Linked DNA regions of Homo sapiens. The protein of the gene in region 6 purifies or fractionates together with the protein of the main gene of each other region. This does not show direct contact. Each region holds a gene or a part of one and is shown on either strand. Other genes may lie near its edges. The genes, in order: SLC25A20, HS6ST1, C1orf198, SLC25A16, PARL and CPQ.

Evidence for each region.
Region 1: the proteins of CPQ (region 6) and SLC25A20 purify together in Homo sapiens (affinity purification with mass spectrometry; one large-scale study listed by BioGRID and IntAct). This does not show direct contact.
Region 2: the proteins of CPQ (region 6) and HS6ST1 purify together in Homo sapiens (affinity purification with mass spectrometry; one large-scale study listed by BioGRID and IntAct). This does not show direct contact.
Region 3: the proteins of CPQ (region 6) and C1orf198 purify together in Homo sapiens (affinity purification with mass spectrometry; one large-scale study listed by BioGRID and IntAct). This does not show direct contact.
Region 4: the proteins of CPQ (region 6) and SLC25A16 purify together in Homo sapiens (affinity purification with mass spectrometry; one large-scale study listed by BioGRID and IntAct). This does not show direct contact.
Region 5: the proteins of CPQ (region 6) and PARL purify together in Homo sapiens (affinity purification with mass spectrometry; one large-scale study listed by BioGRID and IntAct). This does not show direct contact.

The regions. Positions count from the first base shown.
Region 1 is NC_000003.12:48,884,742-48,890,021, reverse strand, and holds part of SLC25A20 (mitochondrial carnitine/acylcarnitine carrier protein), read left to right. Parts: intron 1-5,280. UniProt on the Homo sapiens protein: Mediates the electroneutral exchange of acylcarnitines (O-acyl-(R)-carnitine or L-acylcarnitine) of different acyl chain lengths (ranging from O-acetyl-(R)-carnitine to long-chain O-acyl-(R)-carnitines) with free carnitine ((R)-carnitine or L-carnitine) across the mitochondrial inner membrane, via a ping-pong mechanism.
Region 2 is NC_000002.12:128,265,912-128,271,191, reverse strand, and holds part of HS6ST1 (heparan-sulfate 6-O-sulfotransferase 1), read left to right. Parts: intron 1-2,321; coding exon 2,322-3,030; 3' UTR 3,031-5,280. UniProt on the Homo sapiens protein: 6-O-sulfation enzyme which catalyzes the transfer of sulfate from 3'-phosphoadenosine 5'-phosphosulfate (PAPS) to position 6 of the N-sulfoglucosamine residue (GlcNS) of heparan sulfate.
Region 3 is NC_000001.11:230,840,249-230,845,528, reverse strand, and holds part of C1orf198 (uncharacterized protein C1orf198), read left to right. Parts: intron 1-1,632; coding exon 1,633-2,175; intron 2,176-5,280.
Region 4 is NC_000010.11:68,477,498-68,480,010, reverse strand, and holds the end of SLC25A16 (solute carrier family 25 member 16), read left to right. Parts: 3' UTR 1-2,013; downstream 2,014-2,513. UniProt on the Homo sapiens protein: May be involved in the transport of coenzyme A in the mitochondrial matrix. Very little is known about the physiological function of this carrier.
Region 5 is NC_000003.12:183,827,912-183,833,801, reverse strand, and holds the end of PARL (presenilin-associated rhomboid-like protein, mitochondrial isoform 1 precursor), read left to right. Parts: coding exon 1-78; intron 79-212; coding exon 213-310; intron 311-4,092; coding exon 4,093-4,204; 3' UTR 4,205-4,531; downstream 4,532-5,890. UniProt on the Homo sapiens protein: Required for the control of apoptosis during postnatal growth. Essential for proteolytic processing of an antiapoptotic form of OPA1 which prevents the release of mitochondrial cytochrome c in response to intrinsic apoptotic signals.
Region 6 is NC_000008.11:97,137,431-97,142,090, forward strand, and holds part of CPQ (carboxypeptidase Q preproprotein), read left to right. Parts: intron 1-4,660. UniProt on the Homo sapiens protein: Carboxypeptidase that may play an important role in the hydrolysis of circulating peptides. Catalyzes the hydrolysis of dipeptides with unsubstituted terminals into amino acids.

The DNA.
Region 1 (5,280 bases), on a different chromosome or scaffold from region 6:
GGTCTGCTAAGTAACGGGTGCCTTCCCAGGCACTGGCGTTACTGCTTGACCAAGGAGCCCTCAAGCGGCCCTTATGCGGGCGTGACAGAGGGCTCACCTCTTGCCTTCTTGGTCACTTCTCACAATGTCCCTTCAGCACCGGACCCTATACCTGCCGGTTATTTCTTGTTTATATTAGTAATACAACAAAGAGTAATATTAAAAGCTAATGATTAATAATGTTTATACTAATGATTGATAATGTCCATGATCATCTCTATATCTAATTTGTATTATAACTATTCTATTTTCTTTATTATAGTGAAACAGTTTGTGCCTTCAGTCTGTTGCCTCGGCACCTAGGTAATCCTTTGCCCACACTGCAGTGAGCTGAGACTGCACCATTGCACTCCAGCCTGGGCAACAAGAGTGAAACTCTGTCTCAAAAAAAGAAAAAGAAAAAAGAAAATGTACACCTGCATCTGGATCAGTCAGTTTGATAGGGATCCATGTCAGAAGCGCATATGAATAAAGTCTGAAGGAAAAGTCAGCCAGTCCTAGAAACACTGAGAGAAGCTATCAGTCTCCAGTTCCCCTAGACAGGGACATTAAATTGGTTTGGAGTTATTATTATTATTATATATATATATTTTGAGACATGGTCTCACTCTGTTGCCCAGGCTTGACTACAGTGGCATGAACTTGGCTCACTGCAACCTCTGCCTCCCAGGCTCAAGAGATTCTCCTGCCTAAGCTTCCCGAGTAGCTGAGATTACAGGCATGTGCCATCATGCCTGGCTAATTGCACTCCAGCCTGGGCAAAAAGAATAAAACTCTGTCTCAAAATAAGAATAATATTAATAATAATAATAAATAACTTCATTAACACAGGTCTTAAAGACCTCATTGAGATCTTTTCCTTTGCTTCCTAAAATATAACTTTTTTTTTTTTGAGACGGAGTTTTGCTCTTGTTGTCCAGTCTGGAGTGCAATGGCACAATCTTGGCTCACCGCAATCTCTTGAACCATCTCCTTGGTTCAAGTGATTCTCCTGCCTCAGCTTCCTGAGTAGCTGGGATTATAGGCATGCACCACCATGCCTGGCTAATTTTGTATATTTAGTAGAGACAGGGTTTCACCATGTTAACCAGGATGGTCTCGATCTCCTGACCTCATGATCCACCCGCCTCAGCCTCCCGAAGTGCTGGGATTACAGGCATGAGCCACCACGCCTGGCCCTAAAATATAACTTTCATATAAACACTCTATTATAGTCTCTAAATTTATAGCCTTGATTAAATATACAGAAACTAAGTAGTAGTCATCCAGATAAAAAGGGAGTGATAGTAAGTGATGGACTCAGCCTTGGCGAAGTTGTTCCCAGGATTCCTGTAGGACTTGGGTGCAGAAGGAAGATCTTTTTAAACTATTTATTTATTTATTTATTTATTTATTTATTTATTTATTTATTTTGAGACAAGAGTCTTGTTCAGTTGCCCAGGCTGGAGTGCAGTGGCGCAATCTCGGTCACTGCAAACTCTGCCTCCCGGGTTCAAGTGATTCTCCTGCCTCAGCCTCCCGAGTAGCTGGGATTGCAGGCACCTGCCACCATGCCCGGCTAATTTTTGTGTTTTTAGTAGAAATGGGGTTTTACCATGTTGGCCAAGCTGGTCTCAAACTCCTGACTTTGTGATCTGCCCGCCTCAGCCTCCCAAAGTGCTGGGATTACAGGCATGAGCCACTGCATCTGGCTTAGGAAGATCTTGAGGCAGTGCCTGCCCAACCGTCCTTGAGTGAGGTGGTGCTACCCTTCTTTTTTTTTTTTTTTTTTTTTTCGAGATGGAGTCTTGTTCTGCCACTCAGACTGGAGTGCAGTGGTCCGATCTTGGCTCACTGCAACCTCCACCTCCTGGGTTCAAGTGATTCTCCTGCCTCAGCCTCCCAAGTAGCTGGGATTACAGGCACCTGCCACAATGCCCAGCTCATTTTTATAATTTTAGTACAGATGGGTTTTGCCATGTTGGCCAGCTGGTTTTAATCTCCTGAGCTCAGGTGATCTGCCTGCCTCAGCCTCCCAAAGCGCTGGAATTACAGATATGAGCCACCACGCCTGGCCTGCCCTTTCTTCTTCTTCTTTTTTTTTATGGAGTCTCATTCTGTCACCCAGGTTGGAGTGCAGTGGCACGATCTCAGCCCACTGCAACCTCCGCCTCCCGGGTTCAAGCAATTCTCCCTGCCTCAGCCTCCCGAGTAGCTGGGACTACAAGCGTCTGCCACCATGCCCGACTAATTTTTGTATTTTTAGTAGAGATGGGGTTTCACCATATTGGCCAGGCCGGTCTTGAACTCCTGACTTCGTGATCTGCCCTCCTTGGCCTCCCAAAGTGCTGGAATTACAGGCGTGAGCCATGGCACCTGGCCTTGTTCTTTCTTCTTTAAGCTCCTCCTCCTTACATCTCTAGTGCCCAGGGTAGAGTCTGAGCAGTGTCTGATGGAGGTTCTAGGCTTCAGGTCCACTTAGAGTCCTCTGCCCTTACAGAAGGAAGGTAGGCTTACCTGCCTCTTGGTCATTAGACGTTATTGAACACCTGCCTAGGGGTGGGCAATGTGCTGGGTCCTGGAGTTGTGGTGAGAATGTCTTGTATAAACCCAAGTCTTTGAAGAGTTGAATAGGCTTCCTTAGTCCATATTTGTGCATGTCCTGGTTTTTCCTGTGCCAGATTTGAGCTTTCTGCTTTCTGGAGCTGCCAGGCAGGGGTCTGTAGGTTGTGAAACATGGAACTGGGTTGGCCATTCTAGTGGAAGGAAGACTAGACAAGTTGTTCAGGAGGAATGGGCTTGACCTCTCAGGACCTGGTCATCCTTTTAGCTCATGTAGGGAGCTGTGGGAATGGCTTTGAATGGACTTTGTCATATGCTACTTTTGCAGATCCTCCTCAGATCTCTGTCCTTTTCCCATTTACTGCCTCTGTACTTTGTTCTTGGAGTCCACCTGCAGCCTGCAGCAGTTTAGGCTTTTGCAGGAATTAGGAGGAATGCTGACAGGTACAGTTGTGCCACTTTGATTCTGAAAAGAAAGTTTGGATACCCAGGGTCTGCAGTGAGGCAGGTTCTTCAGCCTGGGTCTGTGGAGCCCTGCCAGTGTGCAGCCTCACCCTGATTCTCCTGCTACTCTCTATAAGGAGAAACTTTAAAATTTTTTTGTATTTGTTTTAAAAAAATGGTTTTGAGATGGGGTCTTGCTATTTTACCCAGGCTGGTCTTGAACTCCTGGGCTCAAGTGATCCTCCCGTCTCAGCCTCCTGCGTACCTGAGATTATAGGCCCTGATACAGGCACTTCATTTGTTACTGAGAAGCTTATGACAAAGTAACAAAGTGATATTTATCTCTTTCCTTCATTCTCCAGAGGCAACTACTTTCAATTTTTTCAGTTGTTTATGCTGTTTCCACCTATCTACATAATATACATTTACTATTATATTTTATTTATTTATTTTTATTATTATTATTTTTTGTTTGAGACGGAGTTTTACTCTTGTTGCCCAGGCTGGAGTGCAATGGCGCGATCTCGGCTCACTGCAACCTCCGCCTCCCGGTTCAAGCGATCCTCCTGCCTCAGCCTCCTGAGTAGCTGGGATTACAGGCATGTGCCACCACGCCTGGCTAATTTTGTATTTTTAGTAGAAACAGGGTTTCTCCATGTTGGTCAGGCTGGTCTCGAACTCCCGACCTCAGGTGATCCGCCCGCCTTGGCCTCTGAAAGTGCTGGGATTACAGGCATGAGCCACCGCACCCGGCCATTACTATTATATTTTATACATTTTTATATTTTTTAGCTACCTATTTGTGGTACATTATTTTATATTTTAGCTCTTAGTCTCCCTATCCCCTCCTTCTGCCCTGCCCATCCATATGATTTTATCACCCTTTGTGGTTTAATCCAATTCACCATTTTCATGATTACAACTTTATATATATTTTTTCTCTTAAGTAAGTATGAAGTATGATGTGCATTCCATTCCTTGTGTAACTTCTTGTTTCCCTTGGGATTGGGTTAATAATTGTGTTAAATCTTTTGTTTTGTTTGTCTTTGAATCACTGTCTCTGTCATTCTGTACCCTAAATGCTCTGTAGTGTACCTTTCTGTTTGGTTTGCTACACACTGCCTAAGGAGTTATTTTCTGTTGTTCTAGTGTGTATTGTTTTGTTCTGTTTTTGTTTTAGTTTAGTTTTGTTTTTTTGAGATGGAATTTTGCTGTGTTGCCAGGCTGGAGTACAGTGGCACAATCTCGGCTCACTGCAACCTTTGCCTCCCAGGTTCAAGCGATTCTCATGCCTCAGCTCCTGAGTAGCTGGGATTACAGGCATGCACCACCACACCCAGCTAATTTTTGTATTTTTAGTAGAGGCGGGGTTTCACCATGTTGGCCATGATGGTCTTGATCTCCTACCTTGTGATCCGCCTGCCTTGGCCTCCCAAAGTGCTGGAATTACAGGCATGAGCTACTGCACCCAGCCTTGTTCTGTTTTTCTTGGAAACATCGCTTTTGGAGTCCTCTACTGCCCTGTGGACTGACTGCTTCCCAGGTCCACTGCACCCTGTGCCATCCTAGAAACGCATTTCATCTCTCTTGGACTGGCCCCCTGGTCTCCCAGGTCCTGAATCTTCCTCGTTTACCACCTTGTTTGGCAGGGTATTTATGTATGTATTTGTCTGTCTGTCTAATTATTTATTGGTTACCACATAATTCACTTTCTTTTTTTTTTTCTAGAGATGGGGTCTCACTCTGTCACCCAGGGTAGAGTACAGTGGCAAGGTCATAGCTCACTGCAGCCTTGAACTCCTTGGCTCAAGTTATTCTCCCAACTCAGCCTCCTGACTGCCTAGGACTACAGGCACACACCACCACGTCTGGCTAACTTTTATTTTTTATTTGTTTTTGTAGAGACAGGGTCTTGCTATGCTGCCCAGGCTCATCTTCCCTTTCATTACTAAACTGTGCTAGTGAAAATTGCTGTGCAGTTCTAACAAAAGTCCCATCTTAATACCTGGAAAATATAAAACATTTTCTTAATCACTTGTAATCTTACCCCAAAGAAGGTAGATCACGTTGTGTATCCTGTTTTGTAGCTTTTTTTTTTTTTTTTACTTAATAATCTCTTCTCATGTTATAATGTGATTTCTTGGCCATGTGACTCCATTTATGGAGTTTATAATTTGTCTTCTATTTGGCAGCTTTTGTTTTTTTCCCCAAAATTTTGGTACCTTATAAGTGCCTGAGGTTATTCTTTTTACACCT
Region 2 (5,280 bases), on a different chromosome or scaffold from region 6:
GTCCCCGCTGCTAACCAGGCACAGGGCAGCTTGCTCTGCAGGTCTTCCAGTCAGCTAGCACAGACCCTGGCCAGTGTCATGACTCTGTGGCCCTGGGCAAGTCACACACCCTCTCTGGGCCATGGGCAGAGGAGCTCATGATGGAGGCATGCCTTGGGCTTCAGGGGATGGTCCCTGAATGGGTGTGGGGCTGGGGCTGAAGGACCCGCCTGTGGGCTGGGGCGCTGAAAATGGGAGAGGAACTGAGCCATTTGTGTTTCCCAGATGGGGCCTGCTGCACTGTGCACAGCGTGTCCTTGCCCTCAGAGTCACCCTTGGGGCCAGAGTCCTTGTGGCTGTAACTCACAGGGTCATTGGCTGGGGCTAGGAGGGCAAGCTTCTCTGTTGGTGGACACATCACACTGTGGTTTTTTGTGTTCAGAAGAAACCTGCCACACTGGCCTGTCTCCATCCATTTGGTCACGGCCCCACAGGAGTGGGGAGCGGAGGTCCATGCGGCCCTATGCCTCCCCTGGACACAGGGTCAGCTAGGAAGGATATGGATAGCCTCTTCTGAGCAGTCAGGGCCTCGTGAGCCTGAGGCAGGAGACAGAAGCCTGCCCCGGCCGCCTCGGGCCCTTACTCCCTGGCCCTTGGTCATTATTGTTTCTAAAACGTTTGTCTCACCTGCTACCTGAAGAAGGTCCCGCCCTCTGGCCCTTGAGGCCCCGAGTGCCCAGGAGCTGCTGCCATCAGCATGGATGGGTGGTACCAGGCAGGCTGTGGGTGCAGGGTGCTTGGGGAGGGCCAGGTGTGCCTTGGGACGTGTGAAGTGGGAGCCTGGAGCAGGGAAACTGAGGCCTGCTCTCGCCCCTGCTGCCCACAGCTTATCTGCCCCCTGGAGACCAGCCGTGCCTGACCCTGGGGTCGTCAGCTCAGTCCTGCTGGGTCCTTCCTCCACCCCATCTGCTGAGAGCTCCTCCAGGGCAGGGTCTGAGCCTGCCAGGCCACAGAAAACACTGGGCGGATGACAGCTGCCTGTCCCTTCCTCGGCAGTCTGCATGCAGTAGTGCTGGCCTTGCTGCCTGCCCCTGGAGCCATCACTGGCTACCCCGCCTGCTTCAGAGCTGCCACCCCTGGGGCTTTCTGACATGTCCTCATAGGCGGGGGTGGCCTGCAGTGGCACCGCACCACTTGCCAGGCACTGTGCCTCCCTCCCTGCAGGGAGGTGTGCGGTCAGATCAGGCAGTTGCCAGCGGACACCAAGAAGCGCTTTGTGCTCCCCGGGGTCCCTCCATGCCCCCCACCCCCACCCCTGCCCAGGGCAGTGTGAGGGGAGGAGGGGAGCAGTGTGGGTACACTTCCATGTTGCCATCTGGGGAATCCTGGCGGGGGGTCAGGGCCCTTCTGGAGCTGCTCCCCCGGGCAGTGAGGGGCCCTGTGGGCTCCTAGGCTGCCTGCCTGGCCCTGGTTCTACTTGGCCTGAAGCCCACCCACCCCAGCGTGGACAGGAGCCAGGAGGAGGAGCCCTCTAAGAATGACTGCAGCCTCTCCCGGGGCTGAGCCCACACACACACACCGGGCATATCCACAGCCGCCACCACGTTTTACCCACCTGTCCAGTGTCCTGACGCCTCCAGCCCAGCGTCATAGCGAGCCTGGCAAGGACATGCTTCATGCTGGGCTCCTGCCGCGCAGGGGAGGGTGGGAGGTGGAGTCTTCCTTGGGTCGTTTCTCCCTTGTGCACGCACCGTTACATACTGTGCAATGCGTTGGTGTCTTGGGGGACAACCCAGCAAGTAGAGTTGGTGTATACGTCATGGCTTCCTCTGGGGTCCTGGGCTGGCTGGTCCGCTGGGCACCCCCCCCCCAACCACCACCAGGCCTTGGCAGGACCCTGGGACTGGGACTGGAGGTGACCCTCGCTGGCCCCTGCCCACCTTCTGTTCCTGCTGAGTGGCTCTTTGGGTGGCACCATGCCCAGGCTGTAAACAGCTGGTGAAGACTGCTGGCCTCAGGCGGCTGTGGCTCTGCGACTTCTCTGGATGCGGTATTGGTGGCTCCACCCACCAGCAGGAAAAAGTCAGGTTGTCCCTCCAGAGGAGCCAGGCCAGGCGCTGCAGGGCACTGTGGTGGTCATCCTGGGTAGCCATGTGACCGTGGCATGCTCCTTGGCATCTCTGATACCGGGTTTTGAAACGACTGAGAGCTAAGTGCAGGAGTTGGTTGGCATTAGAGGCGAAGCCCAAACTCCTGTAGTGGGGACTTTGACTCAGAGCAGCCCTGGTAGCCCCCCTCATGCTGCGTCACAGCCCTCACCTCCTCTCCCCGTCTCCTTGCAGGAAGTTCTACTACATCACCCTGCTACGAGACCCCGTGTCCCGCTACCTGAGCGAGTGGCGGCATGTGCAGAGGGGTGCCACGTGGAAGACGTCGTTGCATATGTGTGATGGGCGCACGCCCACGCCTGAGGAGCTGCCGCCCTGCTACGAGGGCACGGACTGGTCGGGCTGCACGCTACAGGAGTTCATGGACTGCCCGTACAACCTGGCCAACAACCGCCAGGTGCGCATGCTGGCCGACCTGAGCCTGGTGGGCTGCTACAACCTGTCCTTCATCCCCGAGGGCAAGCGGGCCCAGCTGCTGCTCGAGAGCGCCAAGAAGAACCTGCGGGGCATGGCCTTCTTCGGCCTGACCGAGTTCCAGCGCAAGACGCAGTACCTGTTCGAGCGGACGTTCAACCTCAAGTTCATCCGGCCCTTCATGCAGTACAATAGCACGCGGGCGGGCGGCGTGGAGGTGGATGAAGACACCATCCGGCGCATCGAGGAGCTCAACGACCTGGACATGCAGCTGTACGACTACGCCAAGGACCTCTTCCAGCAGCGCTACCAGTACAAGCGGCAGCTGGAGCGCAGGGAGCAGCGCCTGAGGAGCCGCGAGGAGCGTCTGCTGCACCGGGCCAAGGAGGCACTGCCGCGGGAGGATGCCGACGAGCCGGGCCGCGTGCCCACCGAGGACTACATGAGCCACATCATTGAGAAGTGGTAGTGGCGGTGGTGGCCACGGGGAGGCCTCTTGGGGGGTGTGGGGGATAAAACAGGACAGACGACAGGTCCACCCAAGACTGTCAAGGGATGAGCATCCCAAACCTGCTCCACAGAGGTAGCTGCGTCCTGAAAAAAAACAGAGCAGGGATGTAGTGGGGCTGGGCAGGGATGGGGGCTTGAGAAATCAACAGGTGCAGCCCAGTGGGTCAGAGGAAAGCGTGCTCGAAGGATGCCATGGTCAGGGCAGGGCCTCCAGAGCAGGTGTTGTGCCTGGAGCTGCTCTCCTGGCCTCCTTGGATTTATCGCAAAAACTGAAGGTTTGCGCAAGAGACGAGGACAGCGGAAAGTGGACCTGCCAGGCCGGGAGTGTGTCCCTCACCAACTATGCACACAGCACTCGCTCTTAGCTCCTCTGTCCGGGCTACTAGGAGTGAGACCAGCTTCTGGCAACTGCCCCAGCTCCAGGCCATCCCATAGCCCCTCCTCTTCTGGCTGCCCCCAATGCCCCGAGGCCTGGGGAGCCCCCAGCTCACCCATCTGTAGCTCCCTCAAAGTCAGGGCCCACCCCATCTGAGGCAGAGAAGACTCGAGTCCAGCCCCCAGGAAGCCTGCTCCCCTCTCTGGCCCATGGTCCTGCTTCATGCTTTGGGTCAGGAGGCCAAAGCTGATGTTCAGGCCCCACCCACTCCCTACAGTCCTCAGACCAAGGAGGGGTTTGGGTAGTAGGCCCGAGCTGCATTGCCGGCCTTCCTCGGGCCAACTGGCAGCCCAGGAGTGGGGAGGCTTTGGCCAGGGATGCTGCCACTTGTGCGTGAGTCCGCGGCTGGCCCTTGGAGGTGACCATCCAGGCAGGCCTGGCTCAGACTGGAAGGGCTGGGGACCGAGGGCTCCCCTGCCTCTGTTCTCCTTTCTGACCCACTGGGATTTGCTAGCAGGCTGCCCCAGCCCCATCACCGAAACACATACTCAAGAGCTCAAATACCACTGCTCCCACCAGCGTACGGATTAAGTTCATCAGGCTTCCATCGGCTGGAGCATGGGACCATAGCCCCTGCCCAGGAGCCGTACCCTCGGACCACAGTGGCTCTGTATGGCCAGGAACTGGGACTCGAGCTTTCAGATTCTCAACTAGCCTTGGCAAAACAGCTGTAGGTGGCCTCCCTGACAACAGACACTCAGCCCTCCCCACCCTGGCTCTCCTTGCATTTCCCCATGCTCCCCACCCCCTGGCAAAAGGCTGGCCATGCTCTGTTCCCAGCAGCCGCGCAGGTTTCCCCACTGGCTGCAATGGCCCTACCAAAAGCCATGTTGCATATCCGTTGTAAGCACGTGCCCTGTGCCCTGTCCCCATTCCTTATGCCCTAGGAGGCCAAGCTGGTGTCTCTAGGAGGGCCCACACAGGCACCCTGGATCCCCCAGAGAGTAGATTGGTGTGCTCAGGCCGCAGGCTGACTCAGAGGTAGGGCAGTGGGCTCTGCAGGCCACCTGGCTGGGGTTGGTGGGGGTCCTCTCTCCTGCCCCAGCTTCCACTCAGCCACCACAGTTGCCACACCATGGGGTGGAGACGTGGGTCACCACGGGCTTGGGAGCAAGCGCCTTCTGCAGCACAGGAAGCCGAAGCTGGGGTCAGGTGAGGTCGCTACCCCTGGAGGTCTGGCATAAGGGCCCCACCCTCAGGTCTCCTACACTGGCCCCATTTTACTTTGGGGTCCAAGGACAGGATGGTCAACAGGGCAGGGTGGACAGCGTGCCAGCGCCGCGCAGGGCCACCTCCCTGGGTGGATGCATCACACTAAGGAAGTGAGTGCCAAGGGGATTTAGTGGTGTGGTTCTTTCAAAGGGAGGTCAGGGTCAATGGGAATCTGCTCGGACACTCAACATGGGGGTGGGTGCACTCCTTGGAGGAGGAGGAACACGTTCAGGGGATTGTGAGGTCTTGCACAAGCCACGTGGGGCACCTTGGCTTCCCGGCAGGAGGTGGACACCCAGCCAGAGGCCTGGCTCAAGGTGACCTCACCTTCACCATGGGCTTCCTGGGTGCGCGGGCCTGAGCGCAGGTTGTTTTGTACATATTGGAATATGTGTTAACTTATGCCCCGCATCCCAACTCACACGGAAGCACGGGTCTTGTCTCAGTCTCTTCGCTGCATTTGGAAAGCAGTCTCCTCTCGGGCCAGCGCCGGGCTGAGGTGTCCAGAGGCGGCGGCAGCTGGCAGTGCCCTCAGCCCCCAAGTGTCCAGCCTGGCACTTC
Region 3 (5,280 bases), on a different chromosome or scaffold from region 6:
GTATTTTTATTAGAGAGGGGGTTTCTCCATGTTGGTCAGGCTGCTCTGAAACTCCTGACCTCAGATGATCCGCCTGCCTCGCCTCCCAAAATGCTGGGATTACAGGCGTGAGCCATCGTGCCTGGCCTATTTTTAGTATATTTTTTGAGACAGGGTCTTGCTCTGTTGCCCAGGCTGGAATGCAGTGATGCAATCGTGGCTCACTGCAGCCTTGACCTCCCAGGCTCAAGCAATCCTCCCACCTCAGCATATTGAGTAGCTGGGGACCACAGGCGTGTGTCATCATGCCTGGCCTTTTTTTTTTTTTTTTTTAATTTTTTTAATTTTTAGTAGAGAAGGGGTCTCACTTGTTGCCCAGGCTGGTCTCAAACTGGGCTCAAGCGATTTTCTATCCTTAGCCTCCCAAAGTGCTAGGATTATAGGCGTGAGCCACCACATCTGGCGTATTAATTTATTTTAGAAAGAGGCAGGGAAATATGAGGGAGTAGAAATGGTGAGGGAAGAGAGAAGTCTTCAGAATTGATTTTAGAAATGATTGAGATTACAAATTGCTTGTTCTGCAGAGCTTGGAAGACAACATTCTACTCCAAAGAGGAGGTTTAGGTTGCCATGTAATGATTTTGTTGGTCAAAACAGCTCAGCAGTGTCATTTTTAGAGATCACTGTGGTTAGCAGCATCCAGATCAAGGAAAGCATTTTGTGGGTGCTCAGATGTGGGGCATAGGCTGTGATGGGTGCCAGGCCCTGCCCTGCCCTCTGGGTGTTTGTGATCTGAGGCTGGGTTCTGACCCTGGCTGCGATGTGGCCTTTTGTTGCAGTGTGCACCTTTCCTCGTTATCCTCCCAATGAGGGTCGTCACCTGCCAGGAAGGTGCTAGAACCACACTGGAGGAGACAGGAGGGTGCCCTGTTTACCAGGCAGAGAGCCCTTACTCATCGGTAATACTCAGATATCTTGAGCTGCATGTAGCATAGTGCATGAGGGAGTGTATCAGTGTGTTCTTGTGTTGTTTTAAAGAAATACCTGAGACTGGGTAATTTATAAAGAGAGGAGGTTTAATTGGCTCACGGTTCTGCGGGCTGCACAGGAAACATGGCATCGGCATCTGCTTGGCTTCTGGGGAGGCCTCAGGGGGCTGTGGCTCATGGTGGAAGGCGGAGGAGAGCAGGTATCTCACATGGCAGAGCAGGAGCAAGAGGGAGAGAGTCAGGGGGAGGTGCCACACCCTTTTAAACGACCAGATCTCATGAGGACTCACTATCATGAAGACAGCACCAAGCCATGAAGTCACCATCATGAAGACAACATCCGCCCCTGTGATCCAGACACCTCCCACGAGGCCTCACCTCCAGCACTGGGGATTACAGTTCGACATGAGATTTGGGAGGGGACCACCACCCACACTCTGTCACCCGGCCTTGGCATTTAAGCTTCTGATGCATTTCAGGTGTGCGATGGGAGTCCTGACCATACCCACCACTCAGGACAGACAGTTCCAGCACATGGGCAACAACTCGTGTGTGGCTGGTGTGCGTCCTTATGCTGAGGAGGGGTGCGTGAGCTGGCACACTTGTGACGGTCGATTCTCAGGATCTCTTTCTTTTTTCTGTCCTTTCTCATGTCCCACCCTAGAGTCAGATGGAGTTCAGTATCTCCGCCCTATCCATCCAGGAGCCGAGCAACGGCACCGCCGCCAGCGAGCCCAGACCACTGTCCAAAGCTTCCCAGGGCTCCCAGGCCCTCAAGTCCTCCCAAGGCAGCAGGTCCTCCAGCCTGGACGCCCTGGGCCCCACCAGGAAGGAGGAGGAAGCGTCATTCTGGAAGATCAATGCTGAGCGGTCCCGAGGGGAGGGGCCTGAGGCCGAGTTCCAGTCGCTGACCCCTAGCCAGATCAAGTCCATGGAGAAGGGGGAAAAGGTCTTGCCTCCCTGCTACCGGCAGGAACCTGCCCCGAAGGACAGGGAGGCCAAGGTGGAAAGGCCCAGCACCCTCCGTCAGGAGCAGCGTCCTCTTCCCAACGTGAGCACCGAACGTGAGAGACCCCAGCCTGTCCAGGCCTTCAGCAGTGCACTGCACGAGGCTGCCCCCTCCCAGCTCGAGGGGAAGCTGCCATCTCCTGATGTCAGGCAGGACGATGGGGAAGACACCCTGTTCTCGGAACCCAAGTTTGCACAGGTGAGTGGCCTTTACCAGCGCGTCCTCAGATGGGATGGTGCCTTATTCCACGGGAACCGAGAGGGTCCCCCACAAAGCAGGCAGGCCACAGGTGCCCATGCTCTTTTTCTTCTCCTTCCCCTGCCTCTTCCTCAGAGGATGCCTAGGCTCAGGGTGCTGAGCCACCAACAAATATGCAACAAGACAAGTTTTGCGAGTCCATCTGGGTGCCCTAATTTGTTTACCAGTCAGGGTTCCGTGGCCCACTGCGCTTTCCCCAGTGCGCGGGCTGCTATCAGAAGAGGCCCCTGGAAGGCGCTGCGCCCAGGGCTGTCACAGCTCAAAGCTGTGTTGGGCCTTCTTTTTGGGAGCTGTCCATAGAGGCAATGGTCTGTTCTTTAGGACTGGTCTGGATTTGGGCCAGGGGAGCTGCCTGTTGGCAAAGCAGGCAGGCACACTTGAGAGGCCTCACTGGGTCTTGCCCCTCTGTGGGCCTCGCTGGGCTCCTGGCTGCCTTGCTGAGGAGTGAGCCCAGGATGCAGTTGCCTCCATGGTAGCCTCACCCATCCTCCTCTGGCCCTTGAGACTCCTTGGTTCTTGTGGGTCACTCTTTTTTTTTTTAATTTTTATTTTTTAAATTTTTTATTTCCATAGGTTTTGGGTGGTATTTGGTGACATAAGTTCTTTAGTGGTGATGTGTGAGATTTTGGTGCACCCATCACCCGAGCAGTGGACACTGAACCCAATTTGTAGTTTTTTATCCCTCACCCACCTCCCACTCTTTCCCCGAGTCCCCAAAGTCCATTGTGTCATTCTTATGCCTTTGCATCCTCATAGCTTAGCTCCCACTTATGAGTGAGAACATATGATGTTTGATTTTCCATTCCTGAGTTACTTCACTTAGAATAATAGTCTCCAATTACATCCAGGTCGCTGCAGATGCCATTAATTCATTCCTTTTTTGGCTGAGTAGTATTCCATCGTATATATATACCACAGTTTCTTTATCCACTCATTGATTGGTGGGCATTTGGGCTGGTTCCATATACTGAATTTTAAAAGTTTTTATTATGGTAAAATATACAAACATTTACCATTTTAACCATTTTACAGTATAAATTTGGTGGCATTTCAGTACATTCTCAATGCTGTGTAACCATCACTACCATCCATCTCCAGAACTCCTTTCATCCTGCAGAACTAAAGCTCTGGACCCGTTCAACACTAACTTCTCATTCATCCCTCCCCGCAAGCTCCTGGCAACCACCATTCCACTTTCTGTGTCTGTGAATTTGACTCCTCTAGGTACCTCATATAAGTAGCACCATATAGTATTTACCCTTTTGTGACTGACTTACTTTACTTAATGTGACGTCTTCAAGGCTCATTCATGTTGTAGCAAGTGTAGAATTGCCTTCTAAGGCTAATATTCCATCGTGTGGTTAGACCACATTTTGTGTATCCACTCATCCATCGACAGACACTTGGGTTGCTTCCACCTTCTGGCTATTGTTGTCTGTTAGGAATAGTGCTGCTGTGAACGTGTATGTACAAATAAGTCTTCCAGCCCCTGCTTTCCCTTCTCCTGGGTGCATACCCAGATGTAGAATTGCTGGATCACATGGTGGTTCTATTTCTACTTTTTTGAAGAACCTGCATACTGTTCGCCACAGCAGCTGCGTCATTTTACATTCCCATCAATGTGGGTTCGCGTTTCTCCACTCCCTTGCAACACTTGTTATTTTCTGTGTCTTTGCTGGTGCCATGCGAAGGGGTATGAGGTGGTGTCTCACCGTGGTTTAGACTTGCCTGTCCATGATCGTGAATGATGTTGAGCCTCATTTCATGTGCTTATTGGCCATCTGTGTATCTTCTTTGGAGAAATGTCCAATGGTCCCTTGCCCATTTTTAAATTTTTGGTTATTTTGTTGTTGAGTTGAGATCATCACTGATAACATTGAATGTCCCCCAGAGCAGGTTTCCAGTACTTCCACACCTCCCTCGGCAGATGGCTGCACGTGCTGTCCTCCCGAGGAGGGAGGATCCAGCGGTGCTAGTACCTTCTGCCCACCTCGGCTCCACATCAGTGCTCTAGCCTGTCCTCTTCGTGTTTCTGCACCTTCTTAAGCTAGTGCTTTCAGCCCTCTTGTTTCCTGCCTTCTCCGGTACCTGCCCATCTCTCCGTTCTGTTTTCTGTCTCACATCCTCCTGCCCATCAGCTCCTCCTTACAGACAGGCTCAGTTCCCTGCCTCCCTAACCAGCACTCTTTCTCTGAGACTCGGCACTGAGGGCTTCCTCTGAAAGAAGTATTTCCATAAAATAGGTGATAGTCCCCACTCTAAAGAGAAGCAGGAACGTGTTTCTGTGTGGGCAGTGGAGAGTAGGAGACAGCACATGAAATTCCTTTGAGAGAACAGATTTCTGAGTAAAGCACAGTGAAATGCCACTGCATTTAAGAAACTGGAAGGAAACCAGAACAAGGAAAACTGGATTGCACTCCTTCCATTCTGCATGTTTTGCCTCACTCTGCACCAGTCTCACATGTAGCCAAACTGGGCCTGAGACAGGTGTCAAGGGCAAGCCCATTAGCCCATTGCCTGCTCTTGCCGCCATGTATGCATTTTCTGCTGGCCGGCTGCTTGGAGGGTGGAGAGTCAAGGTTTCTTTGCTCAAGAAGACCTTGGCGCACCAGGTAAATGCCTGCCGGTGTTAGGCTGGAGGAAAGGGACATCAGAAACAGGCTGCTGAGTGGAAGCCAGTCAGAAGTTTTATGAAAACAGCAGCAGCTTGAGACAGCCCATGCTCACAAGAGGGGACCTGTCAGTTAAGCCCTTTCCCCTGAAAGAAGAATGACATTAAACCAGGCCTTGTGGTGCACGCCTGGTGCATGCCTGTAGTCCCAGCTACGTGGGAGGCCGAGGCAAGAGGATCGCTTGAGCCCCGGAGGCTGAGCTTAGAGTTTGGGAAAATCACTTCATAACCTTTCACAAGATCTGAAAGAAATAAGCTTCACATTCTTTCCACACTATGTTTACTTTCTCAACTTTACAAGTTCTTTTTTGTTGTGTTTGTGTGTGATGTTTGTTTTATATTTGAAGGAATATCTTTATCATTTGTTCTCTTAT
Region 4 (2,513 bases), on a different chromosome or scaffold from region 6:
AACGAGAGTCTTAACTCTGTCACCCAAGCTGGAGTGCAGTGGTGCAATCTCGGCTCACTGCAATCTCCACCTCCGGGTTCAAGCGATTTTCCCGAGTCATCTTTCCAAGTAACTGGGATTACAGCTATGTGCTACCATGCCCAGCTGAGTTTTGTATTTTTCTTTCTTTTCTTTCTTTTTTTTTTTTTTTTTTGAGACAGAGCCTCACTCTGTTGCCCAGGCTGGAGTGCCCAGGCTGGAGTGCAGTGGTGTGATCTCAGCTCACTGCAACCTCCACCTCCTGGGTTCTAGCGATTCTCCTGCTTCAGCCTCCCGAGTAGCTGGGGTTACAAGCACCCGCCACCACGCCCAGCTAATTTTTGTGTATTTAGTAGAGCTGGGTTTTGCCCTGTTGGCCAGGCTGGTCTTGAATACCTGACCTCAAGTGATCTGCCCCCCCGACTTCCCAAAATGCTGGGACTACTGGCATGAGCCAGTGCTCCTGTCCTCATTCCATTCTTCACCGTGGTACTGACCATCCATTTATTCAGCACCAATTGTGTGCCAGACCTTGTGTCAGCATTATGGAGGACTTCCCTTGGGAGGCTTGTTAGCTGTACTTGCAATCTGATTTGGGTTCCCAAATCAGCATATAACACCAGGTATTTCTCTAATAGAGTATGTGCCACACTTTCTGCTAACTGCCTGTTTATCAGTGTCCCCACATCCCAATATCTGGTTCCTTCAAGGGCAGGGAGCACAGGGTATGGCGTCAGAGTGGTACTCAGTGATGTTTACTGGTGGGTAGAAGGAAGGGTTAGTCCCTGTTTTTGAAGACTTTATGTTCTAGCAGGCAGAAATGAAGCACAAATAGTTCAAGAAATAAACAATTTAGGAATAAAGTCATTTGGTTTGCTTCGCAGAAATGTCTTATTGCTGATTTGCCAGCATGAGTGGCAAATATATAATAAAACCTGGCCGGGCATGGTGGCTCACGCCTGTAATCCCAGCACTTTGGGAGGCCAAGGTGGGCGGATCACGTGGTCAGGAGATCAAGACCATCCTGGCCAACATGGTGAAATCCCATCTCTACTAAAAATATAAAAATTAGCCAGGCATGGTGGTGGGCGCCTGTAGTCCCAGCTACTTGGGAGGCTGAGGTAGGAGAATTGCTTGAACCCAGAAGGCGGAGGTTGCAGTGAGCCAAGATTGCCCCACTGCACTCCAGCCTGGGTGACAGAGTGAGACTCTGTCCCAAAAAATAAAAATAAAAATAAATGAATATATAAAATAAAAAATATATGTATACATATCATATATATATATAAAATAAAACTTATAAATAGTTTTTATGGCTGGGTGAAGTGACTCATGTCTGTAATTCTAGCCCTTTGGGAGGCTGAGCGAGGAGGATCACTTGAGCCTAGGCATTCGAGCCCAGCCTGGGCAACATTGCAAGACTCTGTCTCATTTTTTTATATAAAATGTTTTTTTAAAAAACCCTATGTATAATTATTTATTTTTTTTCCCCAAGGATTATTCCCAAACTATGTACAATTAATGGGTTGCCTTGCAGAGTTGGATCAATAATACCTGACACACTTGTATAGCAAGCATACACTTTACATAGTTCCTCGCATCTATTCTTTGAAACCCAGACACATTCTAGTATTGGGCACTAGAAACTGGTGATAAATAATAACAATTACATATATTTCCTGAAGAATTATGTGGCATTCCTTGTTTTAAGCACCTTTGATGCCTTAGCTCAATCTCCATTACAATACTATGATATAAGTACCATTTAATATTTCTTTTTGACAGATGGGAATAATCGAGGCCTAGGGAGATTAAATTACTTGGCCAGGTTCATGTAAGTGGCAGATCTAGGATTCAAATTCAGCCGGTCTGAATCTAGAGCCTATTCTTTTAGCTATGATGCTATACTTTAATACAGTAATACACTGTTCAAATGAAACTGTAACATGTCATTAAATTTGAACTTGTCAATAAACATACCAAGCAATAAAATAATTACAGCTTGTGGAAAGTGCTTATGAAAACAGTAAATAAGCTACTTGAGAATGGTCAAGGAAAGGTTTCTTTGATGTGCTATATGTACATTCAACAGACACATGGAGGATGAAAAGGAAACAGCCATGCAAAGAGTTCAGGGGAAAGACTGGCCCAGGTGAAGAGAACGCCAAGCACAAAAACCCTGAAACAGGAAAAAGTTTGGTTTGACAATGGAATTGCCGAAAGGCTGGTGTGACTGAAGTATTGTGCGTGAAGGAGTAGCAACAGATGGAGTCAAAGAAATAGACAAAGGCGGTGGGGCATGGTGGCTCATGCCTATAATCCCAGCACTTTGGGAGGCTGAGGTGGGCGAATCTCGAGGTCAAGAGATCAAGACCAGGCCAGGCACGGTGGCTCACTACTGTATTCCCAGCACTTTGGGAGGCTGAGGTGGGCGGATCACAAGGTCAGGAGTTCAAGACCAGCCTGGCCAACATAGTGTTAACTCTGTCTCTACT
Region 5 (5,890 bases), on a different chromosome or scaffold from region 6:
GCAGCTGTCTGCACTAAGATCCCAGAAGGGAGGCTTGCCATTATTTTCCTTCCGATGTTCACGTTCACAGCAGGGAATGTAAGTATTTTTATGAAGTGCAGTGCTGGGGATAGTGGTGATGTTTTTATGTTGAGTGGGTTCTTGCCCTTAAGTTAGAAATGTCAGTGCTGGAGCAATCACAGTTGTGCCGCTTGTTTCTTGCTGCCTTTCAGGCCCTGAAAGCCATTATCGCCATGGATACAGCAGGAATGATCCTGGGATGGAAATTTTTTGATCATGCGGCACATCTTGGGGGAGCTCTTTTTGGAATGTAAGTTTGAGTGTAATTGATTGCTAAACTGCTTCCTTGGGTCATGCGCTCCTCCTACCCCAGCCTCACCCCTACCCCCCATCCCCATGGCAGAGACATTGAACTATGCAACGGAAGCAGAAGCAGGTGGGCTTGGGAGGGTGAGGAAACCTCAACGTGGCTTGCTTTGGGTTTACCCAGCATACCTGGCTCATTGTAGAGACAGTCTGTGCCTTTACCCTACGCTTAACCTTAAGTTGCCCCAACTGTTGGCCTGTTATTCCCAGCCCCCTCTTAGAAGACTGCAGCCTGGCCCCCAGTCTATGCTGACATCTTCTTTTTCCCCTTCAGACTTTCCTGCCCTCCTCTCCCCTGCCTGGCGTCCCACCCTGCTACCCTGACCTCTGTCTCGCCAGTGCTATTTAGACATGCTGAGTTGGCGGAGCCATTGCTCTGTATGACTGGAGTAGAGGCCGGTGACTGCAAACCAATGTGGACCACTTACTGAGTACCCGCTGTATGCAGGCACCAAGCTAGTTCCCTTATGTTATACTATTACTACTCCCATTTTACTGATGGGAAACTGAGGCTCAGACATCATCTTCCCCAGGCCAAACAGCTCTTCAATAGCAGAGCAGAGCTGTAAACCCACCTCTATAAGCCCTTTCCACCCCCACCACACCATATGGAATTGGTTGCTAAACTGCTTCCTTGGGTCACAGCAAATGGCATTGTGGTTACAAGACCTTCCACGTGTGCTTCAAACAATGGGGTTTTGCCTAGACTAGTGCTTAGTAGTAACTGTATCACGGAAACACGGTCAGGACTCTTGGCGTCCATCTGATCGTGGGAGACCCGTCAGCATGAGCTGGATCCCCTCGGGGCCTGTCTTTTCTTACATAAATGTTGCCTTTTGCCCTTACTTGGTTTTTATTTTGTTCCGCGACAATGGAAAACTTAATTTTTTTTTTTATTAAAAAGAAAAATCTATTCTGGCCAGGTGCAGTGGCTCACGCCTGTAATCCCAGCACTTTGGGAGGCCAAGGCAGGCGGATCACAAGGTCAGGAGATCGAGACCATCCTGGCTAACACAGTGAAACCCCGTCTCTACTAAAAATACAAAAAACTTAGCCGGGCGTGGTGGCGGGCGCCTGTAGTCCCAGCTACTCGGGAGGCTGAGGCAGGAGAATGGTGTGAACCCAGAAGGCAGAGCTTGCAGTGAGCCGAGATCACGCCACTGCACTCCAGCCTGGGCGACAAAGTGAGACTCTGTCTCAAAAAAAAAAAAAAGAAAAATCTATTCTAAGTGAAGCAGTTTTTCCCAGTAGGTGGCAGAACTAAATGCCATTATGCCATTTATAATTTTAAGTGATTAAAGAGGAGTAGTATGTAGTATATGCAAGGTCTAGCTCTAACAGCAGTGCAGTATAAATAGTAGAAACTGACCTGATATTACAGTATGAGAAACATGAAGGGGTTCTGTTTTGTGAGCTCTAAATTTATCTTCCATGTATACTTCAAGGCTCTTCTCCCCAGTAGATTTTTATTCATCTGAACTATAATTAGGTGGCCTTTTTCCATTCTGAAAATAATTGGATCAAATGCATTTTAAAGTCCAGGGTCTGAAAGGTGGAGGAATCCTTTCTCTTTACTGTTTCTAATTTAAACTCCTTTTCATTTACTAGATTTCAGTCATGTCCAGAATTCATCTTTTCTAAAAGCTTTAATCTAGATTTAGAAATCTAAAATCTTTTATTTATTTTTTTTTCGTTGAAGTGCCCTGATTTTGTTGGTGGTAAAGACTCCATTAGTATCCACTTATACATTTCCCTGACTTTGCCTCTGACCAAACCTTACAGTATTCACATTGTACTGTTGCAATAATAATAGCTAACATATTAATACGCTGAATATTTGCTGTGTGCCTAAGCTAAGGATTTAATTCTCTTAAAATCCTGTGAGGTATTTTATTTTACAGAAAAAGAAACTGCTTAAAGAAAGTAACTTATCCAGGTCACACAAGTAACAATTGCAGAGCTGGAGTTTCAGATGAGGGCTGGCTTGCGCTGCCGCTACAGAAAAGAGTGCCCTAGAAATCGGTCATCTTGCATTTCCCGATTTTAGTTTAGCCAAATGAAAAATTCCTTTTGGATTTATGAGTATAATCAGACAGTATACCTGTGAAATTAAAGTATTTGACTCTTTGCTTGAAATAAGTAGGTTAAAAAGATTTGGGTGGCCGGGCGCAGTGGCTCACGCCTGTAATCCCAGCACTTTGGGAGGCTGAGGCAAGTAGATCACTTGAGGTCAGGAGTTCGAGACCAGCCTGACCAATATGGGGAAACCTCGTCTCTACTAAAAATACAAAAATTAGCCGGGCGTGGTGGTGCATGCCTGTAATACCAGCTACTTGGAGGCTGAGGCAGGAGAATCACTTGAAGCCAGGAGGCAGAGGTTACAGTGAGCTGAGATCACGCCACTGCACTCCAGCCTGGGCAACAGAGCGCGACTCTGTCTAACAACAAAAAAGATTTGGGAAAACACTTTATTAATGAAGAGTTCCTGACAAAGTGATTTTTTTGGGGAGAATTTTTATAATTGCATTTGAATATTAGGGTGCTCCTTTTTCTCTCATTCTAAATTCACCAGAGACTTAAGCACAGAGAATTTTTATTACATGCCTGTTAATTAATGTGTATAATCAGATTTTAACTATATTTAGTGAATATTAAGATTCAGGTACAAATCAAGCCCTTTATAATTAAACATACACATTCAGAACATTTTTAAAATATTAAAACATTAAACTGCTCTTCTCACCCACTCCAAGTCAAATAGCATTTTTTCAGTCAGGTGTCTGGGAGCTCGATGCAAGATAACAAAATCTGGTCTCTGCCTCAGGGAACATGAAATCTGTTTGGGGAAGCCAGAGCAAAAATAAAGGTTTTAATAGCAAGCTCTCACTAACTGCCCCTGGAAATCCACCCCACATCCTCCAGGAAGCCTTTCTCTACCCCCAGTGCCCTCAGGAGCTTCTCCAAGGCAGGCCCTTCCCAGAGCGCAGTGTGCTCCCCAGCTCACAGAAGATGCTCCCTACACGCTGCAGGAAAGTCCAGTGCCTGCAGCACAGGCTTCAGCAGCAGACTCGGGTTCTAGTCTCAGTCTGCTGATTCCTAGTTGTGGAACCTGAGCAGGCGAAGTTACTAAACCTCTCTGTGCGTCAGCCTCCCAGGCTCGTTGCTTCAGGCCGCAGTTAGGCTGTGTGAACAGGAGAGTGGGGATGGGAACTAGGTATCTTAAAGCGGGGCAGAGTTTGGATGAGCGGGCCACCCTTCGTATAGTTAGGAGGAAGATGACGGGAGGCATGGAAGCTGGGATAGCCATCCTGAGTCAGTGCTAATTCTGACACTTCAGAACATCGAGTCAGTCTGACCTGCGAGTGAGCTTTCATTGACCACTTAGAAACTATTAGCACCTTGGACAAACTACTTTCTTTCAGACCTGGTTGCTTCATGTCTGCGATGGGAAAACTGATACTTAACTTGCAGATAGTGGTGAATCAAAAGTAGTATATGTGAAGTACTCACACACTGCGGAGCATTCAGCCATCGTCCCATCCTACTTCTACCTTTTACATATTGTAATATGAAAGCTAAACCATTTCTCGATGTGAGTCAGTTTTAATCGGCTACATAGTGAGTGGCATTCGATTTTAAAAATGTCAACTTGGGATCTGTCACCATGCTACTTACCATTTGTATGTCACACTGTTTGAATGTCGGACCTGGTTTGTTTTTCTCCAGATGGTATGTTACTTACGGTCATGAACTGATTTGGAAGAACAGGGAGCCGCTAGTGAAAATCTGGCATGAAATAAGGACTAATGGCCCCAAAAAAGGAGGTGGCTCTAAGTAAAACTGGGATTGGACAGTAGTGGTGCATCTGGTCCTTGCCGCCTGAGAGCCCCAGGAGACATCGGCTAGAGTGACCATGGCTATGCTCCCGTCTGGAAGATGCCAGCATCTGGCCTCCCACTGTTTTCAGCTGTGTCCCCCAGTCCGTGTCTTTTTAGAATGTGAATGATGATAAAGTTGTGAAATAAAGGTTTCTATCTAGTTTGTAAGCAGATGTGTGTGTTCTCTCTTTAAGGGGCCGACACGGCTCTGGCATTTTGCTTTGGTTGTTGCATTGACAGGACCTGGGGAGAGTGCACCCTGAAAGGCCTGATCAGAACATGAAGGCGCTGGTTGCCTGTCTTTGGACCCTCCAGTGCCTCTGCTTAGCCTTCACTCTTCCTTGCCTCCCCCTCCCCTGGGTTGGCTGCACATAAAAGTCGAGAGTATCCCCTCTCCAGCACAATCTGAAATAACAGCTGCAGTATTTTCTCAATTTTCAGGAAAGGTAGTGTTTTCTGGCAGTGAGTGGCATATACAAAAAGCTATTTTCAGGTTTTGCTTTCTAGGTTCAATTTGTAGATAAATTAAGAGGTAGAAAGAAGTGATTTGGGTAAATTCAGACTTGAATCTGAGCCGAATTTTATCTTCTGTTTGAAAGTGTTCTAATTGAAGCGTCTCACTGAAATAGCAGATAGTGGCTGTCGTCGTCACAGCCTCACTGTTGTGGAATTCATGTTACCCTCGTGACTGAGAATGACATCTAGGAAATGCAGTTTGAGAGTATGTTCTTCTTGAAGTCATTTACAGGAGAATTTTTAGTCTTTTGATGGCTTCAAAATGTTATACCAAGTCTTGCAGCTTTGTCCTGGGAGGATCGAAGGCCCTGATTTCAGCCTCCTGTGGCCGATCGGACTCAGGTTGTGTGCCGTGGGGGATGGGAATGGCGGCTTTGGAAAAGGAGTGGGAGTGGTGCCCACCTCACCAGGCAAGTGAGAACTGCATGGCAGCACGCGCCCAGCACATAGAAATTGTCCAGTATTTGGCAGTCCTTCATATCCTTCTTCCATCAGGCTGGACTTGTTTCTACTATGATTTACAGTTATTCTTCCCAGGCACAGGATTCTGTTCTAAACTCGTATCACTTCTAGGGGAGAGAGTTATCTTAGCCATCATTTTGCCAGCGAGGAAACGGCACACGTGGTGTAGGGGCACTGCCCAAGGTCACAATGCTTTGCTCTGACATCTGCTAACAACTCTGCAACACAGATGAGGCAAGATGCGTTTTCCAGAGATGGGATAGGAGGCTGAGTTCATAGGGACATTCCCTCTAGAGCCCAACATTAATTCACATCGTGCTTTGGGCAGACCAGGCAAAGAGGCAATGAAGACATCTCTGTGTCCCTGCTTTGTGACTGGGAAAAAGTTAGAAGTCCCTGTAGCATCTCCTGGTCCCTAAAACCCCTCAATGCTGGAGCCTCTGTGCATGGCCTGGGGAGGCCAGAACCTGGCTGTGGCCGGAGAAGCCTTGCTGTCCACAGCTCCCTCCTGATTGCCCACGAGGGTGCTTCACTTTCTCCTCTTGGCTTCTCTGGGGACCCGCGATCACTGCCTTCAAGGCCATGCACTCCCTGGCCCGTGGGCCTCTTGGGCTGTGCCGCCTCCACTGGCATCTGAAGTGTGGGGTACCTAGGAACATGCCGTGGCT
Region 6 (4,660 bases):
ACTTCTGTTCTTTGAAGGTTTTGACTCTGTCCTTGTACATGAATTTGACATTCACCTGATACTCTGTGGGGTCCAGAGAGCATGTACTCCCCACCAGCTTCAACTAACTCTAAAATGTCACAGTTTCTGTTAAAGTGCTTTCTAGCTACTACCAGAGTAAACATACAGATTTGTCTCCCCTGGGTGTGCTGTGAGTTCATGGCATAAAGTATTTTCTGGTTTTAAAATGGACTTCTGGCCTGTAATCCCAGCACTTTGGGAGGCCGAGGCGGGCGGATCATGAGGTCAGGAAATCGAGACCATCGTGGTTAACACGGTGAAACTCCTTCTCTACTAAAAATACAAAAAATTAGCTGGGCGTGGTGGCAGGCGCCTGTAGTCCCGGGAGGCGGAGCTTGCAGTGAGCCAAGTTCACGCCACTGCACTCCAGCCTGGGCGAAGAGCAAGACTCCGTCTCAAAAAAAAAAAAGGACTTCTGGCTTTTCTACTGGGAAATGTGGTTATCTGTGCCTTCTGGAGGTCAAGATGTCATCATCTGGCCCTGGTCCCTCTCACTTCTCCTCAGACTGGACCTCTTCTCCAGCTGTTTACTCACCTTCGTAGTTGTTCACACAATTTCTCCTTCATGTTTTTTGGAGCATCTCCCTAAGGTGCATCTCTAGTCACCCCACCTTCTCATTCATCCTCCCAACCACCATGGCTCCACATTTATGAACTACATTCAGTCTATTTTCAGCCTGACATTTAGGACCTTCCACAGGTAGTTGCCAACTTTATCTGCCAATAATTAGCCCAAGTTACCCCCCAGTGTCAACCAAACTGGAACGCTCACATGTTCTGTTCATCTGGAATACCTGTGCCTATATCTGTCTGTTGACATCCTAAGTACTCCACCCCAGAGCAAGGGGTTTATGGGAGTAGATAGGGGAAAACTCTGGTACAAAGTTGTAAGAACGTGGGTTGGGCTTGGAGAAAATCTAGATGGCATCCTGGGGCAATGGAGGGCTCAAGAACAATGGCAATGTCCAGTCCACAAGACAGGAGGTAGGGGATTTGAAGAGGGAAATCCTAGCAATGTGGTTACCAGAAACACATAGAAACATACCTCCCCTTCCCTAAAATAGTTATTGGATATAATAATAATTGCCTTTTAATAATACATGACTTAGCAAGAGGCAAAATAAGGGAATTCCTCAGAGGTGAGAAATAATAGAAATAATGAAAATCTATAGAAGTAAGAAAACCCTGGGGCCTGGCATTTGTCTGCTAATCCCTGTTTGCCTAGAGCATGGGTTTTAATGAGCAGTGGGTGCATCTAGGACAAGTACAAAACTTGGGGCCACTAGTGTACTTTATAAGATATTGATTAACTTTAGACTTATTAAGATGAATATGTAACCTATAATTTCCAAGGTCTCCACTGACAGAATTGAAATAAAGCATGTAGCTTCCAAACTATAGAGTTGGAGGGAAAAGGAATGAGAGAAGGGAAAAAAATCAACCCAAAAGAAGGCAAGAAAGAAAGAAAAAAAAGAAACCTAGAAAACATAATAAACAGATAGAAGCAAAAAAATTCAACTCTAAACTATTCATAAGAGAAACTCCTAAAAGTATGAGATAGAGAAAGGCTGCCAGTAAAACGATGGGAAAGGACATACCAGGGTAATACTCTGCAAAAAGAACTAGGTGTGCCTATCTTAATTATTAGGAAAAACTGGACTTCCAGAACAAAAAGCAACATTACAGATGAGTTTTCAATTTACCAGGGATACATAATTTTAAATTTGTATACCCCTAACAGCATAACTTTGAAATATATTTTAAAAAATTACTGGAACTACGGAATATTCAAAATCACAAAGGGACATTTTCACACATCTCACAGAGGGACATTTTCACACATCTCTCTCAAAATTGATGGGTCAAATAGACAATAAATCAGTAAGGAGTTAAAAGGTTTGAAGAACACAATTAAGAAGCTTGATCTAATGGACTTACACAGAGCACTGAAAGCACATTCTCTTCAAATACACATGGAATATTTACAAAAATGCATCACATACTAGGCCATAGAGCAAACATCAACAAAATTCAAAGAATCTATATCATACAGCCAACATTCTCTAACAGTTAAATTAGAAATCAATAATGAAAAAAATAACTCAGAAAACTTCATACTTTTGAAAATTAAAAAAATGCATTCTAACTCATGAGTCAAGGAAAAAGTAAAACTAGAAATTAATAAATATTTAGAACTGAATTGTCATGAAACTACTAATGGGAACTGGTGAGATACAGCTAAAGCAGTATTGAGGGAAGATTATAGCCTTACTGCTTATGCTAGAGACAAAGTACGTCTGCAGAGTAATAAACTGAGTGTTTAACTCCAAAAATTAGAAAAAGAAAAGCAAATAAATCCAAAGAAAGGAGGAGTAAAATAATATAAGCATAATATAAACTTAGGAGCAGAAATCAATGGAAGAACAACTACTAAATAATAGAAAGTATCCAAAAAATGAAAGTCATCATTTTTTCTTTTTCTTCAAATTATTAATAAAACTGACAAACTGCAAGCAAGATTTAAAAAAAAAACAGAGAAGACACTGATAATCAACATCAAGAATGAAAAAGAGGGCATCACTATAGATGCTGCAGACATCAACTAAAATTAAAAACAGGATATTACTGACAACTTCATGCCAATTATTTTGAGCATTTAGACAAAACTCACAAATTCCTAGACAAATGTAATTTCCATAGTTAATTCAAGAATAAGTACAAAACCTGAATAAGCCAATAACCATGAAAGAAATTGAATCATTAGTTAAAATTGTTATCATAAAGAAAACATCAGACTTTGATGGCTTTGTTAAAAGTTCTACAAAATAACCAGGAAATAAATAATTCTAATCTTACACAAACTATCCCAGAATGTATAAAAAAAAGAAGGAAAACCATGTTATGCATCAGATACATCCTTGATACTAAAACTGGAGAGCCACAAACAGAAAATGTAGGTTTTTCAAAATGAAAATTTACAATAGCAACAAAATATATAAGCCATCAAAGAAAGAAAATGAACAAAAGGGATGTAAAACTGTTATAAAACTTTAAAGACATTAAGAAGACAAATAGAAACATATATAAACACACCATTTTCATGGATAAGAACACAATATTCTAATAAAAAGATGTTCGGTTCCCCCCAATTTAAAATAGATATTACCACAATTCTGATCAAAATCCAAAAATACTTTTGGAGTATATTTAAATGATTCTAAAATTTATCTGAAAGAGCAAATGGTTCTGAATAATCAAAACACTCCTGAAGAAGAAGGAAGAGAAAGTGAGGGAATTTGCCCTAACAGATATCAAGGATTCTAAAGTAATAGCAATTAAGATAGTGTGGCATTGTTGCAGAGATAGACAAATAGATCACTGAAACAATTAGAAAGCCCCAAAATAAACATATAAGGAAACTTAATATGGCACAATCCGTACCGCAGATCAGTGGAGAAAGAGGATGTACTACTAATGAATAAATGTTTCTAGGCAATGGAAAACTGAAAATAGAATCCTACCTCACACCCAACACAAAAATCATTTCCTATTCTGGATGGGTAGAGAACTTAAAAATGAAAATAAAATATTTTTAAAATTTAGAATAGAATTTCAGAGAATATCTTTGTAATATTAGGGTAAGGAAGGACTTCTTAAGACATAAACAGTATGGATCTTACAGGAAAATATTCATAAATCCAACTACATTGAAAGTAAAAACACTTATTCATCAAAACACACACTAAACAGGGTAAAGAGATGAGCCACAAACTGGGAAATGATATATACAAACTTACTAACAGAAGTGTCTAAATTATGCCAAGAACTCTTACAAGTCAATAAGAAAAAGACAAATCCATTGAAAAATGGGCAAAATGCATGAACAAGAACTTCACAAAAGAGAAAACACACATAAATGACAAAAAAATCCACATGTAAAAACATACTTAATCTCACAATTAGTTTCTTTTAAAACTGAAAATGAAATGTTAGCATTTCACACTCACCAAATTTACAAAAATTAGTTTGACAATATCAAGTGCTGTAGACTATGTGAAGCAAGAGAATGACTCATATACTAACAGTGTAAGTGTAAATTGAAAAGGAAAACATTTTGGAATTGCACGGTAAAATTGAACACACACATACTCTATAGCCCAGCAAACCACTCCTACATTCAAAGCCTTGATAGTGTTGGTAGCAGCACGTAATAGAAAACTGGAAACCACCTAAATGACCATTGTTGGTAAAATGGATAAATAAATACAAAGAGGTAATATACTGCAATAAAACATGAAAATACTAGAGCTATACACAACAGCATAGATAAATCTTATATATGTTTGAATGGAAAAAGCAAGCTAAAGAAATATATCTGGAGGATATGGTTCAAAAGTAGGCAATATTAAACTGTATATCTGTACACGTATAATTGTTATATATAGTCATATACATATATGTGGTAAAGTATGAAGTGGTAAAACTGTAGAAAAGCAAGGAGTAATTAAGAGGCAAGACAGGCTAGTGGGTACCTCTGGAGGGAGGAAAAGATCTGCAGTGGGCAGGGGTGTCATAAATGGGTTTCCAAGATACTGGTGAT